Linked DNA regions of Homo sapiens: all the other regions are linked to region 2. Evidence: fine-mapped expression QTL. A gene starts in region 2. Each other region holds a variant in brackets. All regions are shown on one strand. Distances are between the middles of the regions.

Region 1 (6,176 bases), 260 kb before region 2:
ATTCTCTTTACTGGTAGGGAACGTAGTTCCTTATCAGGACAACAAAGATTGACATTTGACAGACAGCAGGAAAAACAAGAATTAAAGCAGCAAGGCTTTCTAATTCCCTCTAAAATTATTGGCTTTTTCTTACAAGCAAGGCTGCCAGAGTTTGCAATTGTTCAGAAATTGCAGCACCGAGAGAGTCTTCTGACTGCAGCACCATCTCAGAAGCTTTTTTTGCCCAGGCCAGCCTATGCCCACAGCTGCATTTCTCACTTCTTCTCAACCAGCTCCTCTCACCCACCTCCTCTGAGCTAGTCGCTCATGACCCCTGGGGGCCAGCTAGTGTACCAACAAGAAGCCTAGAAAAGCTTAGGGAAAAGTCTGTGGTTAATGCTTTCCTTATCCTTAGCCCTTCAACTAAATACTCCTGTGTGATGTCAGGCTTTGCTTTTACTAGATTTGTATTTATTGACAATTTGCTAGAGTTTACTTAACTGTAACCTGAAATAATGTCCCTTTCCTCCTAGGATTTTCTTTGGGAACTTAAACAAAATAACATATTCATCATAAACAATAGATGAATAAAAAGGAGATGCTTTTTTCTCTATTTTAGAGTACTCTGTAAAGTTCATGGAACCATCTGAATCAGCATCACCTGGCAGGCTTATAGCAGATTTTAGGCCAGGCGTGGTGGGTCACACCTGTAATACCAGCACTTTGGGAGGCCAAGGTGGGTGGATCATTTGCAGTCAGGGGTTCGAGACCAGCCTGGCCAACATGGCAAAATCTCACCTCTACTAAAAATGCAAAAATTAGCCAGGCGTGGTGGCAGATGCCTATAGACCCAGCCATATGGGAGGCTGAGACAGGGGAATCACTTGAACCCAGGAGGTGGAGGTTTTAGAGAGGCGAAATCATGCCACTGCACTCCAACCTGGGTGACAGAACGAGACTCTGTCTCAAAAAAAAAAAAAAAATCAGATTCCAGAAGCTCCTTCCACTCACATACAGAGCCCAGATTTGTACAGTGCAAGATAGAATCTTATTTCCCCTTGGCCTAAGGAGCCATTTCTACCTGTGTACTGCAAACACTGAAAAACCTGGACACTTTTGGTCTGAGATGTGCATTTCTCAACTTCAGCTTCAAATTGGATTCACCGGGGGAGCTTTGTAATGACACTGATGCTCAGGGCTTCAATCAGACTAATTAAATTAGAACTTCTGTGCATGGGGCCCAAGCACCAGTACTTTAAGAAGTGCCAGGTGGTTCTGTAATATAGCCAGAAATGAGAACCACTGGTTTCTATTTTACTTACTAAGTGTATTAGTCCATTTTCATACTGCTATGAAGAAATACCCAAGACTGGGTAATTTATAAAGAAAATGAGGCTTAATGGACTCACAGTTCCACATAGCTGGGAGGCCTCACATTCATGGCAGAAGGTGAAGGAGTAATAAAGGCACATCTGACATGGCAGCAGGCAAGAGAGCATGTGCAGGGGAACTGACCTTTATAAAACCATCAGATCTCATGAGACTTACTCACTATCATAAGAACAGCACAGGAAAAACCCACCCCCATTATTCAATTACCTCCCACCACCCTCCCACAACATGTGGGAATTATGGGAGTTAAATTCAAGATGAGATTTGGGTGGGGATACAGCCAAACCATATCACTAAGCTACTTGAGAATTCTATCACTGCTTTAAAATCCATTAATATGTAGCTACTCCCCTTCTCTTTCACTGGCAGTCAGTCAGCCTTCTTCCATCTTGGATACCTATCTCCTTTTTAGTATTAGAACCTTTACAACATAGAACAAGCTAATTGCTCCACCCAATATTTACCTATAAATAGCACTGCCCTATTGACATTCTCCTGCTTAGAAATTCTGAGTGCATTGAGGCCACTATGAGACAGGGTTGGATCTGGGAGATAGTCTTGACCCCCCAGCTTCAGGAGAGCAGGTAGAGTCTCCTCCTCCACACGCTGACCAGGTAGACATTGTGGCACTGAAAGGGAGTCTGGCAGGTAAAAAGGAGCTCATAACCTTCGGGAGGACACCTGTGTTGAGGAATTGCTTATATCTAAAAACAGCTTCTGTAGCAACATACCAAACTCTGGCTTTGTATAGTCTGTCTTAATTAAACTTCAGTTGCAGCCTAATGGGATAAAATGGGATAAAAAAGGTAAACTAACAGAAGATAATTGCTAGGGGGAAAAGGAAGCTAAACTTTAGACAGCAGATCTTATTGGTACATGGAAAACCAAAACAGGCAAGTAGCCAGAGAAAACTTGAAATATGGAAACTCTAATGTGTGGTTCTCCGGTTCAAATCTTTCTCTCTACTAAATGGCAAATGTCATGGGCAGAAGGTGGAAGTAGGACTTTTCATTTCTATATAATCAAGCTTATAATTTCCTTTCTTGGGAGTAGGTTTTGATAAGGATGGGAGAAAGCACAGACCTCCATGAACTTGGGGAGGAGGTATAAAAGGAGAAGGATATGGAAGGTGTCAAAGCCATTACCAAGTGATAGTTTTGGGAAGAGAGTTTTCTGTTTTGCAGTTCACCCTAGAACAGGCATATTATAGCTCCCTTTGCCCCAGATCAAATCAAGAAAACTAGCTCTCAATGTCAATGAGAGAGAGTAATCAAGAATCTGAGAAGGATTCTCCATGCATCTTGAGACTCTTCCTTAGGCTGACCTGATTTTTAATCTTTCCTCCTGGGGCCTCTCCTATCTCTTCCTCCCCTGTACTGTGTCCTGCCCAAATAGAGACTATGCTTCTTTTAACATCCACATGCCTCTGTTACATCTTCCCTGCTTGTGATGCCGAACTGTGTTGCAACTACAGTCTATTTTCCTTTTCCGACACACATGGTCCAAACTTTATAGCCAATAATGAGCTTCAAAAACTTTGTAACTCAAAGAAACCATAAAACACCGCTCCACAAATTTCTCAGGCAAGATCCATGGTTGGCGAACTGATATATTCACTTTGCCCAACAGGGATTTAACTTCTGATCCTCTCTTTTCCTGACTGTGGAAAGAGCAAGACTACATGGCAGGAATGAGCCTCCAGAGAGGGCCCGGACAAACACCAGATGAATTAAAATATCACCTTGATTACAGTGTACATATGTCCTATTTCTTTTTTATTATGTCTTTCTCTGTTCTAATAATATGTCCCATTTATTTTAGGGAAGCCCAGTCCAGATAGTTTAAGAGGAAGGCATTAAATGGACATGTGGATCTTTATTTTTGGGGAAGAAACCTAAGAGGAAAATCTGTACCCATATAAACAGCCAAAAAAACCATAACAGCCATCTATTTCCTCATTTCATTTTATGTCTTTCTCTGTTCTAATAATATGTCCTGTTTATTTTAGGGAAGACCGTCCAGATAGTTTGAGAGGAAGGCATTAAATGGACATGTGGATCTTTATTTTGGGGGAAGAAACTGACGAGGAAACTCTGTACCCTCATAAACTGCCAAAAAACCATTAACAGCCATCTATTTCCTCATTTTCTTAGGTCCTAAGGGAAAACCCCAGTGGAAACCAACACTAAATAAGAGAATGGATAAAACTGTTT[T/C]GGGGAAATTTGAGTATGGGGAGAGGAATGGAGATTGCCCTGGGGAGGGCATAAATAGTGCCTCTCTGAATTTAATATGTGATGTCCAGAGGGACCTAAATGAAACACAGATTCTAAAATAAATTGTTTGAAAGGCACTTCAGAAACATGGAGGTTATGAGAAAGAAAATTTTGATTAAGACTCACCAGCCTGGATTCAGTAAAGAAACACTGTTCTTAATACCTGCTGTAGCCTTTTAAGTTGTCTTTTTATTCGCATGACAATGAGTCAGGGCAATACACTCATATTTTTCAAAAACCTTTCGACATAGTTTAACTTCTGGAGATAATAGCCAAAGCAAATGTCACAGAATAAAGGATAAAAAAGCTTTATGTAGAAAAGTCCTAGGTACGGGAGATTAAAGAGAGCCCCAGGTAACTCCAGGGCTCATGGAATGTGGATGGCTGATCCTGTTTCTAATGAGGCCAGGAGGAAGATCACATTCAAGCCCTTAAAGAAAAAATTGCTATCTCTGGGAAGATACCTCTAATTCCACCCAAACTTCCCTAAAATGTGTTGCTTTGGTCATAGAGCATAGAGAAGGATGAAAGAAGGCGTACAGAGAGTTTAAGACCATGTCTGCTCCTAAAGCAGTGACTAACCAGACCTATTGTCAGATATACACTCCAGATGTGTTACCCTAGCCAGCCATTTCCAATTGCTTCCTTCCTGCAAATCTCTACGAAAGTCTCATTCAAAGGTTATCTTTTATAAAAACAGGTGATAAATAAAGGCAGCTAGAGCTTGGGGAGCACTCTATCTTGAAGAGCTCATCTATCAAGTTCCCTCTAATTCCCCTCCTTCCTTGCTTCTTCCTCTGCAGAAGACTCTCCTTCTACCACCTGACATGACACCTCTGGAGGTAAATGCCCAGTCCTTGATGAGACTCAAGGCCCTGTCCCCCTAACTTCCCATCCATAGGCATGGACCTTTATGAGTTGTTCACTACTTAAGCCAGATCTACAACCTTTGTGATTGGTCTGGAGTTAGACCCCTGACCCAAGCTGGACAAGTCATATATCCTCCCAAAATAATTGAGAAGTGCAAATTAAAGAGAGCTAGGTAGTCTCTGCTGTGGCTTAGGTATTACATTAAAAACAAAAATGAAGTCATCGAGAGACAATCATACCTCTCCATGTAAAGTAAGAGGTAGAGAAAGCTGAAGGGCAGAGAAAGAAGAATGAAAAATGTATGTGCAGAGAAACAGAGATGGAGAGAGTACAAATTGAATTGCTAATTCCTATTTTCTGTCCATTGTTGTCCATAAAACGCCCCTATATCTTTATATCTAAGTCATCTCTTTGTTCAGGTTGGCTAGAATCGTTTCCTCCTTGAAATCACTCCCCTCGACTAAATGCAGTCCCCTGTTCTCTCCTTTCTAATCTCTTCCCTCACTATGGATGCTTTTATCTCCCATATCTTTCTAGTTCCCTGATTCCCCACCTCCTATTCCCTAAAAATGCTGGCTTGGCAGTGTACTGCCATTAGATCTGGAAAGCCCTGGTATTTTATTATTATGAAGAGACTAAGCTGAGGGTAGAAGAATCTATTCATCTCCAAGTTGCCAGTGAACTCTGAGGCATCTTAGTTATTAGTGAGTTGAGCTGAAGAATAAAAACAATTTTCAAGTGCCCTTAGGCAAAAATATGTCTTACCTACCAATTCCGCAATCCCTGAGAGGATCTGGAAGCCATAGGGATTGTACGTTTCTAAAAGGCAACATACAGAGACTAAATTATACTTTCTATACATCCTTTTCATGTGTTCTGGGAAGTGCTGGGGTTTTTTTTGTGTTTTGCGGGAGGCGGGGGTTGGCCAGATTCTCAAGGCCCTCCCTCTCTGAAAGTTTTCTATATTATGACATGGTTTCCAGGATGCCTCTAGTTTCCCAGGGAAAAGAGCTGATCACCATGAGTTCCTAGAAAACTATGAAATGTCATGGATTTTCAAGCTATGTGCCATAAATTAATCCCTCCAGAGATATAAATCCGGATCTTTAGTTATTAGTAGATAGCCCAGAAGAATACCTTCTTGGAATCTGAATATTTCCAAATCCTAATTTCCAGAGACTCTCCAGCCTTCTGTATTGTTTCATATATTCATTCTTTCATGTATTAAAAAAAATATGAACATCTACTATATCCCAGTCACTACCATATGTTACATTGATGCAACGAGCAGAATTGTCCAACGGCGACCTGGGGAACCAACTGAAACAAGGTATTTTGCTTCCCCAGCAGATGGTGTTGTATCTGAACTTATCTCTTTTGGAACGAGGGGCTTCCTTTCCCACAGAGGATGCTCTAACTTCCCAGGGGCCTCAAGTGCCTCAGGAACTGATCACCTGGCTTTTCCACATAACTCCTTTAAACAGCTGACACTCAAATCCAGACTGCCTGCTAGCTAAATAATCTTATTATCTCCACATTGAGGAAGCTGCTCTCTAAAAAGAGAAAGCAATAATGGGAAGGGCTCCTCTCCTGGAACAGAGAAAAGTATCATGGAGTTGGTAGAGCTTAATTTGGATGAGATTTTCAAGGAATGATTGGTTA
Region 2 (6,176 bases):
AGTCAGACTGTAAATACATATGTTTTGTCATTCTTAACTACTGTAATTCAGAACTTCAGCTGCCAAATTTGGTGCTAATATTCTCACATATGCAGTTCATGCTCTGCTCTTAAGTAATTCCTTGTTTGCTGTCAGCAGCTTCTACCATGATATATAAAATGGTAGAATCAATTTAAAGAAAAATAACCTAAATTGTTAGCTAAATGGAGCTACAATGTGTTTTTCTTCTTGAAAATATTCCCTTTTCTATTATTTCCTTTATTTAGTAATTATAAACCCTGGTCAAGCAAAAAATACATACAGCAGAACATTTTAAGTACCAGCAAACCACAAACAGCAGTGTTTTCAAGAAGAAAAAAAGGAAAATCTCAGTTTCATGCTAGACCATCCTTTGAGGCACTGTCATTTTAAGTGTGGAGGCATCAATTATTTCCCCTAGGCTGAAAGATCTACACATATAAAGGTTCTATAGATCCACTAAGAAAATAAGCAACCATTTCTCTGTATCATTAAACACAACAGGATACTAGTCTTGAAACACCGGCAAAATTCTGAGTGTGAATATTAAGGTCTCATATTTCAGTTTCAAGTGAAATAGAGTTGTTTTAGGCCAAAGAGGATTGAGACCATACTTCAAGTTGTCAACTGCATAATATTTCAAGGGTCAAAGACTAGCTCCATTTCAAAAGCCTGTAACCTTACAGCCTGAAGAAACCCTGTGGGTCTCCTAGTTCAATATGACACCCAAGGCAGGAATTTTTCCCCTAGCATCCCTGACAGATGGTCAGCCTCTGTTTCAATTACTCCAGTGGGGGAGTTCTCAAGAGAAGGTTCCCAAGGGCTATGATGAAAGGCTAGAACCAGCCATTCAGACCTGGAGGAAGGCTCCAGTCAGCAAGCTCGCAAGATACAGACAGCATTACCAAACATTGAAACCAGACTTCCACAAGCAAGAATGCGATTCCGAACTGACCATCATAAAGATGCAATGTGTAAGACATACAAACCCCAATTCTAGAACCATCCAAGGTCCTTTTACTGGCCTAGGGAGTAGCTCCCACAATGGGGTAAGCAAGGTGGCTTTTCTCCGACTTATTATTATTATTTTTTAATGACTCTTTAAGGCTCACAGCAAGGCTTGATCAAGTCAGGGAGCACCAAATCCCTTCCTTCCAAAAACCAAGGCAAGGGACCCGCTGGTGGAAATGCTAAGGCTTAAAATACTCTTAACTTTGGTCTTAAATTCGTCACTACAGTAAACCAGAACATTTCCGGTTTTTCTTTTAAAGATGTACATAGGCTATGCCGTAACCGAAGTTTGGTTGGTGTAGGGTGGATTGGGGGGAGCGGTGTTTTAAGCGCAGCCCTTCATCCCGCCTTGAAGTCTAGCTTGATCCTCCCAGGAAAGGCGAGCGCGCGGGGCTGAGCTGCCAGCCGGTCCCCAGCCGGAGCCTGGGACGGGGCGGTCCGGCCCTTACCTGTCAATGCTGATCACGCACAGGGTCATGATCGAGGCCGTGCAGCACATGACGTCCATGGCGATGAAGACATTACAGAAAAAGTGTCCAAAGATCCACTTGCCCCCGATGAGGTCGGTGACGCTGACGAAGGGCATGACCGCCACAGCCACCGAGAGGTCGGCCAGCGCCAGGGACACGATCAGGTAGTTGGAGGGCTGGCGGAGCTTCTTGACGAAGCACACGGAGATCACCACCAGGCAGTTGCCCGCGATCGTCAGCAGCGTGATGAGCGTCAGGATGGAGCCGATCACAACTTTCTCGACTCTGCCGTAGTTGATCTGTTCCCCACAGCCGGAGGCATTGTCCGGGGGCGCGTCCCAGGTGGGCGCCGGGCTGGCTGTCACCTCGCTCAGCAGGTGCGGCGCCCAGGAGCCCGCGACCGGGTCGGCGCCACCGTCGGGGCTCAAGTCGGGCAGCCCGCGCCCCACTTCTGGCAGAAGGAAAGAGCGGAGGTGCCCGTAGAGGTCCGGGCGGCCGCTGCTGTTAACGTCCATCATCGCGCCGCCGTGTGCCGCTGCCCATGGAGCCGGCGCCCCGGCCACGCGCCTCCGGCTGCCGGCCCCGGGGCTTCACCTCACCGGTTCCGCTCCGCCCGGCCCAGCCATGGGGCCCGCGCCGACCGCTGGGGGGCGCCTGGCTCTGTCTCGGAGCCCCGCACTCCCCGGACCCCCGGCCGCTGCGGGTAACGCGGCAGCGCGGCCTCACGGGGACTCCCTGCGGGAGGCGCTTCGGCCCCCGACGGACGCCTGGGACGCGCGGAGTCGAGGGAGCTCGGGCTGGGCTCCGCTGGCAGCTCCACAGTTCGCAGCAGCAGCTCGGCTGCGCCGAGAGCGCCCGGGCGGCAGCGGCAGAAGTTGCGGAGTGCGCCCCGCCCCTCGCGCCCGCCGCCGCCGCCGCCGCCGCCGCCGCTCCCCTGCGGCAGCCGCGCCGCGTCCCCGCCGCCGCCGCCTCCGGCCGCTGCCCGCTCCCTCGCGCTCCTGGGACGGGATACCCGGGCTGGGCAGGCACCGCCGCCTCTCCCGCGCCTCCCTACTGTGAGGGGGCGGCGCTGCACGCGCCTCCCGGGATCCCGGGTCCCCTCGCCCGGGAAGCTGTCCTTGCCGCATGATAGATACTTAGAACCCCTCCAGCCGACCCCAGCCTCCGCACACTAGTCAGCCACAGTTCAGTGGGGGCATTTTTCTTTTGTTAAGAGGCCTAATGAGCCAGCGGATGTTTGGGCTCATTGCGAAATGAAGAACCTAGAGGGGGATTTTATTTTTCTTAATTAAACAACAACCAAAAAAACGTCTCTGAGCACTACACTAAGCAACAAATAGGTACTTCCGTTTTCTATTTTGACCGCTTATGGGAAGAAGCGAAGATGGAAAAGAAGCAGCCGAATGGGGTGAGGGTGGGAGCTCCGAGAAGAGGAAGAAAGAAAAAAAGGAGGGAGGGGGATTCCTTAAGCCCCTGGCACCCAGGAGATGAGGATGCTCTGGGGACAAGGCCTCCAAGGGGGTTACACCCATTTGGACTAATCCTTCCTGGATGTCTAGAAACAGTCCTCTCCGCTCTGAAAATAGACCCTGATTGCCTTTATATTTAGACTTCAAAGCCTAATATATTGAAAAGAGAGTTAATTTTCCCGTAGCATTCTGGAAGTCTTACACATAAGCAAAGAAATGACCGGTTATACTCTTCTATAAAGGAATCCTGGAGGTGTATGTTGATTTAATACCTATTGGCTAAAATTCCCCTTGGTATCCAAACCCTGTCAGAGCGGCTGATTTTTATTATTTGTGAGACTTGCTTCATTCCATTTTGTTTGAAGGTTTCATTGGAAGCCAGCAGTGATTTCTGTAGTTTAAGACTCTAAAAATAATCAAATCTGTTTTTTCTTGTTAGGCCCTAGCGGATTATAAATAAGAAGAAAAGGAATAAAAACCTCAAAGTATATTGATCAGAGTGCTGAATAGTACTTTCATTCTTCAAGGTGGGTATTAGCTCTGTTTTTCCAGATAGGGAAGGTTGTTAGCTCTTGCAATCAGCTGGTAAGGAATAGTTATGTTTCAAACCCAAGTTTATCTGATTACTATGCCCATATTCTTCCCTGTACACATTCAGAAAAAGTTTTAATGGAAAAAAAAAAAAGCCCTAATGTTCACAGCTCTTTTGCTGTGATCAACATTTCAGAGGCTCCTCTCTGCCTAGGATAAGCAAACCAATCCATTGAGTCAGAGGAAGAGTTGAATATAATACCTAGGCCACAAAGCAATATTATCTAACAGTTAAGATGGATGAGGAAATTTCTTCAACCTTACTTATGTTAGTTATTCTCTGTTTCGCTTTTCTTGGTTTGTTATCTGTGGTGAACCACGGTCCGAAAATATTAAATGGAAATTTTCAGAAATAAACAATGTGTAAGTTGTCAATTGCACACTATTCTGAGTAGCGTGATGAAATCTCTATCTTACCCAGGATATGAATCATCCCTTGTCCAACATATCCACACTGTATATGCCATCCACCATTAGTCACTTAGTAGCCCTCTCTCTTACCAGATCAAAAAAAAAAACATAGTATATATACGATTGGGTACTATCCGGGGTTTTAGGCATCCACTGGGGATCTTGGGAGAGAGGAAATCTCAGACAAAAGACAAATAGTTTGTTGCTGGAATGCATCTAAGAAACCATTTGTTCACCCTTCAGTGCAGAGGAGGAAATAGAGGCTGGGAGAAATTTTATAACTTATCCAAGATCATATGTGACTGCATTGAAATGTCTCCATTTTTTTATTTTGAGGTTTGGAATTGTCTTAAGGTCTTTTAAAAATTCCTTCATGTAGTATATTCCCCAAGATACTTTTGATATTTTTTTCATTTTAACTTTTCAACTCATTTTAACTTATTTTGACTTTTGTATTCTTCCCCTTGAATACCCTAATCAGTTCAGCTTATATATTCTGTCTTGGCTCTGTCAAATAATATTCCAGAGTAATTACACACAGATTTTGAAAATTAATCATTTTATTTGTATTTAAACCTCTAGTCAATATGATTTACCACCTACACTCTTACAGCCCTCACGTAGCCCATTTATATTTCACAACAGCTTCTAGTTTTTGCTTTTGTCTTGTTTTAGTCCCTTTGGGATGCCATAACAAAAATATCATAGCCTGGGTGGCTTAACAACAAACATTTACCAAGAACAAGGCAACAGTAAATTTAGCCATGTTGCTGTGTCCTCACCTGGCAAAGGGGGTAGGAGAGCTCTCTGGGTCTCTCTTTCTTTTTTTTTTTTTTTTTTTTTTTTTTTGAGACAGGGTCTTGCTCTGTCACCCAGGCTGGAGTGCAGTGGCGCGATCTCGGCTCACTGCAACCTCAACCTCCCAGGTTCAAGCGATTCTTCTGCCTCAGCTTCCCAAGTAGCTGGGATTACAGGCACATGCCACCACACCTGCCTAATTTTTGTATTGTTTTTAGTAGGGACCGGGTTTCACCATGTTGGCCAGGCTGGCCTCAAACTCTTAACCTCAAGTGATCCGCCTGCCTCAGCCTCCCAAAGTGCTGAGATTACAGGCATGAGCCACCAAGCCTGGCCTGGGGTCCCTTTTATGAGGGTACTAATCCCATTCAGGAGGGTTCTGCCCTCATGACTTAATCATCTCCCTCTCCCATCTGACAAAGTCCTAATGTTCAGAATCTATAACTTAAATGAAGGAACAAGCAAGAAACAAATAACCCCATTAAAAAGTGGGCAAAGGACATGAACAGACACTTCTCGACAGAAGACATACAGGTGGCCAGCAAACATGAAAAAATGCTCATCATCCCTAACCATCAGAGAAAATGCAAATCAAAACCACAATGAGATACTCTCTCACACCTAATGCCACCACAATGGGGAGCAGGATTTCAACATACCAATTTTTTGGAGGAAACAAATGTTTATTCCATAACAACTTTTAAATTGTGTGACATATAAATACAGCAAATAATCATTAAAATACTATTTTTTAAATTACTACCTCCTTCATTGTCAATATAGCATCAAGTCCAAGCTCCCTTTTTTATAGAACAGTCACCTCTGTTATATTATCCCTAGTGATGGCTGAGTGTATTTCCTAAGAGTTGCTAGGTTTCTAATTTATAAGCTGTCACAATGCATAAACATAGTTATTGAAAATCTCGGCTTCTGCAGCATTACTTTGCTTATGTTGAGTTTAAATTTCATCTATCATTGTGTTATTCCAAAATCCTGACAGAGCAATCTGGAATTCTTTCAGTTTCCCTTTAACCTTCACTAACAAATAATTGTGTCCTCATAAAAATGCCAAAATCTAGTGTATACTTTTCTGTAATTTTCTCACAAAGAAATGCCAAAGATATAGCTTCACAAAATATTCATAAAATATCTAAATATTCATCTAAATTTGTTGTTTGTTCTGCCCTTAGTTTTCTGGTGTTTAAAAGCCATATCAAGGTGTTGCTTCCTTCTTCCCTCCCGCTGCCCACCCACTCTTCAACAGTTATACCAGAGACAGTAAGTAAAGTGTTGGCATCTAAATCAAATCATGTCTTTATTTTCTGTCCCTTTTATTCCTAGCATTTAAAAAAATTACTGCTTTTAAAAGTACTAATTCTTATCTAGACTCTCATTGCCTACAATAGCA
Region 3 (6,176 bases), 280 kb before region 2:
CATGTAATGTTTTTTCTAATATTGAACTTCTTTACATTCTGGAAATACACTCTCCTTGGTATTGAATGTTTGAATCTGTTCCATACGTCCTCATTTTCAAAAATACCAATTATGCATATATTGGGCTCCCTTTATCTTTTCTGTTATTATTAAAATATTTTATTATTTTAGTTTGATTCATTTTCTGATTTTCCCAAGCCATCCACCCTATCTTTGCCAAAATCGGTATTACTTTCTTTTTCTACTTCTTATTGCTTTCATTCTGAAATGTTTGTTTTATTGCCATGTTTTTCCTGAGTTTTTCCAACTTGCTGTTAGATTCTCCTCTTATCACACAATCCTCTTCCTAAGCATTTTTTATTTTTAGAAATATCAAATTGTCTGTAATTTTTTAAGAACATGAAATTCTATTGAACTGAACCCTTCATTCTTTGGGCAACTCATTTAATAATGTATATTTATTTCCTTTTGTTTAAGATTTTTACTCATCTCTGAATGATTCATCTGCCAGATTCCAGATAAGGAACTGTGTGGAGTAAATTGTTAAAACTTTATGTTGCTTCAGCATCCATTTTGAATCTAGGTTTAACTTTCTCATACCAGAAGCAAGGCTTAGTTACCTTTGACACATATCCAGTTCTCTGCCTCTTCCCAGTTCCTCAATGTGGTCAATCCAAATGTCTGCCTCCTGGTGGCTACCTCCCTACGGGACATAGAGATACAACCTAGCTGACTCACTCCACTGACCCCACACCTACATAGACTGTACATACATGCCACAGTAACCACTCTCAGTCACAACATGACCCTTTGAGATTCATGCTAGCTTGCTCTAAACATGCCAGTTAGAATTTCCTGTGGGAAGCCTGCTTGGGTAATGCCCTGCACCCTAATAAAGTCCTTGGCTCATAGATCTTCCTCCACACTCCACCTACAGGTTGGGCACTCTGTTGGCTCCAGACTTCCTGTCAACCCTCATTGACACCCCTCTTCTCTTTGGGATCTGTACATAATAAACTGCTTCTGACATTTCATGTGTTTGTGCTGTGTTGCCTCCTCTGTCTTACCTAATTGACACACCCACATCTAACTTTCCTTCTAGTCAAAGCTCTCCTGGAGAGTGGCTATCTTGGTGTTATAAACTGGACACAGGTCAGACAAGAGCCATAGGGGTATCTGCCAGCATAGACAAATTTACTGTGAGAGGGACACCAAGTCATATGTTGTACACTTAGGCATTAAGCCATCTGCCAGAATTAAAAAAAAAAAAAGCATCTGTATCCCATGAAAGGCATATTGTAAACATCCTGGATCAAATCCCATGGATCTGCATCAGGGCAAGGCTGGAGTTTATAGCCAATCTCCAGAGAGAGAGCGCTCAGGACAAATTAGAGAGGAATACAAGACTATTCTGTGGAGAAAATGGAGAGAGGAGTGTGAACTGGCAATCTCTAGCCTCTCTTTTGTCTGATCTCTCCTTTATTCTCTGACTAAATCTTTTAGTGTCCGAGGGAAAAGCATAGTAGAGTTGAGGGTAGGGAGAAAAGGGAGTACAGAAGACAGTAGTTCAAAACCTATGCTCTGAAGTCACCCACAGGATTCAAATTCCAATGCTGCTCCCTGCTAGCTCTTTGGTCTTGAAATAGTACTTTAAATTATCTGTATCTCTGTTTTTTTATCTGCATAGTCCCTTTATAGCTTGTTATAAAAATTAAATGAGTCACTATTAAATCTAGAACAGTTTCTGCCACATATAATAGTTCAACAAGGGTTAACATTATGATTAGTTGTTTCTGCCCCATGAGCTTTCTGTTACAATATGCAACTGCTTTGTCTTTTTCCTTGAATCACTCTACCTTATTCTAAGCATCCGCCTCAATTAGGAGGATTGGTTAGAGACCATAGAAATGACATAAGCTGTATTCTTCAGTTGCAGTTTTTGACTTTCTGTGTTTTTTAACTAAGTCGTTACAGGGACATGCCTGCATTTCTCATGACTGCCTCATTCCTCTAGCTTGCAGTCAGTCAGTGGCTTCTCATTTAAGGACTACAGTGCTTACTTTCAGAGAAACCCATACCTGGCAGAATGCAAATACCACTTGACTATCAACAAGCTTTCTCCTCTGTAGAGATATCTTTGGCCAGAATACTTCATAGTTTGAAGCTGTAGTAGACATTATTTCTTAGGTCATTGTAGATGGTGGATTACTCCCTTTCTTTTTTTCCTTGCTGTTTCTGACAGGTTTCATTTTTTTTTAAAGGAGAGTAATAAATATGCCTTAATTTAAGATTTCTAATCAAAAATCTGGAATAGATTCAATACCTTAAGAATGGTCTGAAAGAATTCACCTGTAAAATGGTCCAGGCTGAAATCAAATCAATGGTGAATTCATGATAAAATATAAAATTCAGTATGGCCATTATATTATATACACTTTCTACTTCTTTTTAAGATATTTTTTATTTGTTAATATTTTCAAAATATTCCACTTGGATTCTCCATATTATTAGTATTTTGTTTTTAAATTGATTTAATGTTTCTGGTTATATCCTCATTCTCATTTCAAATATTACATATGTATGACTTCTCTTCCTCATTTGCATTGCCAGGATTTCAGCTATTTACTAGACTTTTCAAAAAGCTCATTTATGGCTTCATTTATACTTCTGCTTTTATCATTGTTTATTTCTATTTCTATTTTCCTTAGCCTAATTTTTAATTTTTCTAGATTCTTGAATAGTATACTTGCTTTATTTTTTATTCGTTCTTGTTAATAATAAAACCATTTGCAGCTAA[T/C]CATTTTGCTCTGAGTATAAGGTGGTGATACTGGGTTATTCTTATTTGCATAAACATTATTTTAATGACACCAAAATATTCTATGGTTAAAAAAGACTATAAGCATGCTTAACCATTCTCATTATAGTTTAGTTTATAGGTTAATTTCATCTTTGCTAATAGGTTATAGGTTAGTTCCATCTTTGCTAATTATAAATAACTCTGTATATAGTTTAATTAAAAAATACTTGGGGGGAGGGGGGAGGGAAAGCATTAGGAGATATACCTAATGTAAATGACGAGTTAATGGGTGCAGCACACCAACATGGCACATGTATACATATGTAACAAACCTGCACATTGTGCACATGTACCCTAGAACTTAAAGTATAATAAAAAAGAATACTTTTTCTTGATATAATATGTATGTATTCATTTCAAATTTTTATGAAAATTTCACAAAACTAAGGATTAATTTTCTACTAAAGAATCTAGAATATATCTCTTAATCAGTGTTCTTCATTCTTTTATGGAGTCATATTATACCATTTTTTTTTCATAGCACTGTACTATGTTTTCATTAATTGCCAAAGAAAATATTACCATCTGCTTAGCATCAATGACTTATGACACTAATTGTACTAGATGACATAGTTAAGCAGGAGCTACTGTTAATACTTTTTTTGTTCATTGCCCTAGATGGTCTAGGATTTCATTTTATTGGAGAAAATCTCCTGTCATCTTTGCAAATTATGTTAATTTTATTGATAGGTTAGTAAAAGGTATTCTGGACACCATGTATCGTTTTGTAGGCAAAGAATTTGACTGTCCTTCATAAAACCTTTGTGAAAAACACAGTGAAATTATTATGACAAAAATTGGACAAAAACAAGAATCCACTGGCAACATCCAACATTGGAGGGTATAATTTTAAAAGTTGAGAACTTCCAGGAACAGTGCTGGAAACTATGTATGCTGGTCAGTACCTAAGCCTATGACTAATCATAGAACTTTGTGTGGAAATAACCAAAAACATAGGTACTAAAACTGCTTCTTCCTCCTCTCAGCAGTAGCTTGAGGTTCATTTTGAATCTACACAAATTGTTCTATAATAATGGCTAATATCAAAAATATGATCAAACTTAAGTCAGGCAATACGCTAAACTTTGTACATGCAAAATCTCATTTAATCCTCAAGATGACACTACAATTTTGGTTTCATCAATGTGATAGACTAAACAAATGAATAAACTACTCCTGCTGCAAATGCTTACAAATTCTGAATAAAGTAAAAAAGAATCTTTTAAAATACATTACTAAGGCAGCTAAAAAAGAGTAAAATCCCCAGACATCAGGAACTAAAAGAGTGGTAAGCACACAAGTTGATGCTTCAGTGGCCAGGATGGCATGAGTGGTGTGCAGGAGAGTATAGAACTCAGGAGATCTCTAATTGCTAGGGTGTTGGACATTAATATCTATGCAGAGAAATTAAACCTATGTGAGGTCAGGAGTGGGGATGTAAATCCCAGTATAAAGACAGGACCCTTAAAGTGCTACGCCCACAGAAAATGAGGAGCTCGATAAAATGTGTCTACATGTCTTAGGATGCCAGCAATAACATTTTCTTTATTTTGGGTTCTGGGTGAGTAAAAAAAAAAAAATTACCATGAGAAATCAAAACCTCAAGCTTAAGTAATCTGAGATGTAGAGTCCAATTTACAGTGTTCATGAGTGATGAGAATCCAAGCCTACTTCACTGAAGTATGTAGCAGAGGAAAATGAAAAACTGCTCTGAACCAATGTCATATGAAATTCCTACAAGAGAAAAAAAACGACATACAAGAATTTCTTAATCAAAAATTACAAAATGTGCTAGAAAATAGTTATCAGACAGAATAAATCAGATTAGTAGAGAACCTAGAAGGACAAATAATAATCTGAACAAGCTTATAAAATAATTTAAATGGCTAAAGAGATAAAAGAAAAAATGAAAATCAAAGAATAAGAAACAACAAAAAATAGAAAGTCTAAGAAACAAAAGAACTTATAGAAATGAAATAAATATTTATTGAGATTTCAAATCCAGTAGACTGGAAAAAACAACAAATTCTACATAGTCAGTGGGAGAATCAAGTAACAAGATAGAGCTGAGGAAATAACCCAAGATGTAGCACTGAGTCATAAAGTGATAGAAATGTAAAATAGGTTAAAAGATTCGCAGAACAAAAGGAGAAGGTCCAACATGTGTCTATTAAGAGTATGAGGAAAGGAAGAGGTGGGAGAGCAATATTCAAAAAGGTAAGGTCTGTGAAATTTTTCAAGTTAATAAAATACATGTAACATAAGATTGCATAAGCTCAAGTCCTGAGCAAAATAAAAAAAAAACTACATGTATATTTATCATAGAAAAATAGCAGAATATCAAAGACATTGGAAATAAAAACATAAAAGGAGAAGAAAGAGAAAAAGATAGATTACCCTGCAAAGGAGTAATTAAAGTTATACCAAAGTTTTCAATAGCAAGATGGAGACCAGAAAAGAGATGAAGAAACTGAGGCACAGAAAAGTCACACATGGTCCTTAAAGACAGGTAGCCAGTATGTTGCAGAGTCAGATTTTAAGTAAGGTGATCTGACTCCAAAGCCCACATTCTTCAACAACACAGAAAGCTTTTCTGCATAACATTCTGGACAGTTGTCTTTGACTCACCTTTACTTAAAAAAAATAAAAGAAAATGAAAAAACATTTTTTTCTCAATAAGTCAAAATCCGAAATGGTTAGAAAAACCATGTATGTGCCTTTTTGCAAATCTGAAATTAATCTAACTAATATCAATAATGTTTACAAAAATTTAAAAGTTGGATTTGGAGGGCAGCTCATCAGCAGTATTAGATTGCAGATTTCCACACTGGATGGAAATTAAACTATATTTAGACTTGTCTAGAGGCAAAACAGTTGACAATGTCATCCAAGTGGAAGCATGTGGGTGAGTTTCAATGCATAAAAATATTTCCAATTTTTAATCAGCTATACCATATGTAGTAATTGGAGAAATCTTAGAAATATGGCCTCAATTTCCCACATCATCTCTAAAGCATATAACCTTGGGTATACATGAACTAGGCAACAGATCTTTAATTTAATAAATGTTAAACATATATTTTAAATCTCACTAATAGAAGTATTTTTAAAATTGGATAGATTTTTTTTCACAGATTGTTAACTAGGTCTGTAAATAATTCCCAATGGGAGGGACCAATGAGGATATGAGTTGAAATAAATATTTGACCTACCACAGTGAATTCTTTGAAGGACAATACATGTTCATATACATAAATTCCTTGAGCAACACAAGTCCTGAGCAAAATAAATTATAAATCATATCATAGCTCAAAAAGGG

Direction of the effects. Alleles are on the strand shown, and positions count from the first base shown. SD is a standard deviation of normalised expression in the study named. Not every link is listed here.
For the expression in aorta of the gene that starts at base 2,385 in region 2, allele C in region 3 goes with a higher level than allele T (large effect, 1.1 SD a copy in GTEx).

What was found. PIP is the estimated chance that this variant, and not a neighbour inherited with it, causes the effect.
Region 1: its variant is fine-mapped to the expression of HTR7 in subcutaneous fat (GTEx, PIP 0.98).
Region 3: its variant is fine-mapped to the expression of HTR7 in aorta (GTEx, PIP 0.99).

What each region holds. Positions count from the first base shown.
Region 1 is chr10:90,592,802-90,598,977 of GRCh38, forward strand. No RefSeq gene overlaps it. Among named protein-coding and RNA genes, the nearest start is that of LINC02653, 55 kb to the left of the region's middle. The variant T/C (reference allele first, on the strand shown) is at 3,585.
Region 2 is chr10:90,855,655-90,861,830 of GRCh38, forward strand. HTR7 (5-hydroxytryptamine receptor 7) reads right to left here and starts at 2,385. Exons shown (of 4, transcript NM_019859.4): 1 at 1,479-2,385. The coding sequence starts at 2,017. RefSeq lists silencers at 1,983-2,032, 2,053-2,422.
Region 3 is chr10:90,579,103-90,585,278 of GRCh38, forward strand. No RefSeq gene overlaps it. Among named protein-coding and RNA genes, the nearest start is that of LINC02653, 41 kb to the left of the region's middle. The variant T/C (reference allele first, on the strand shown) is at 2,798.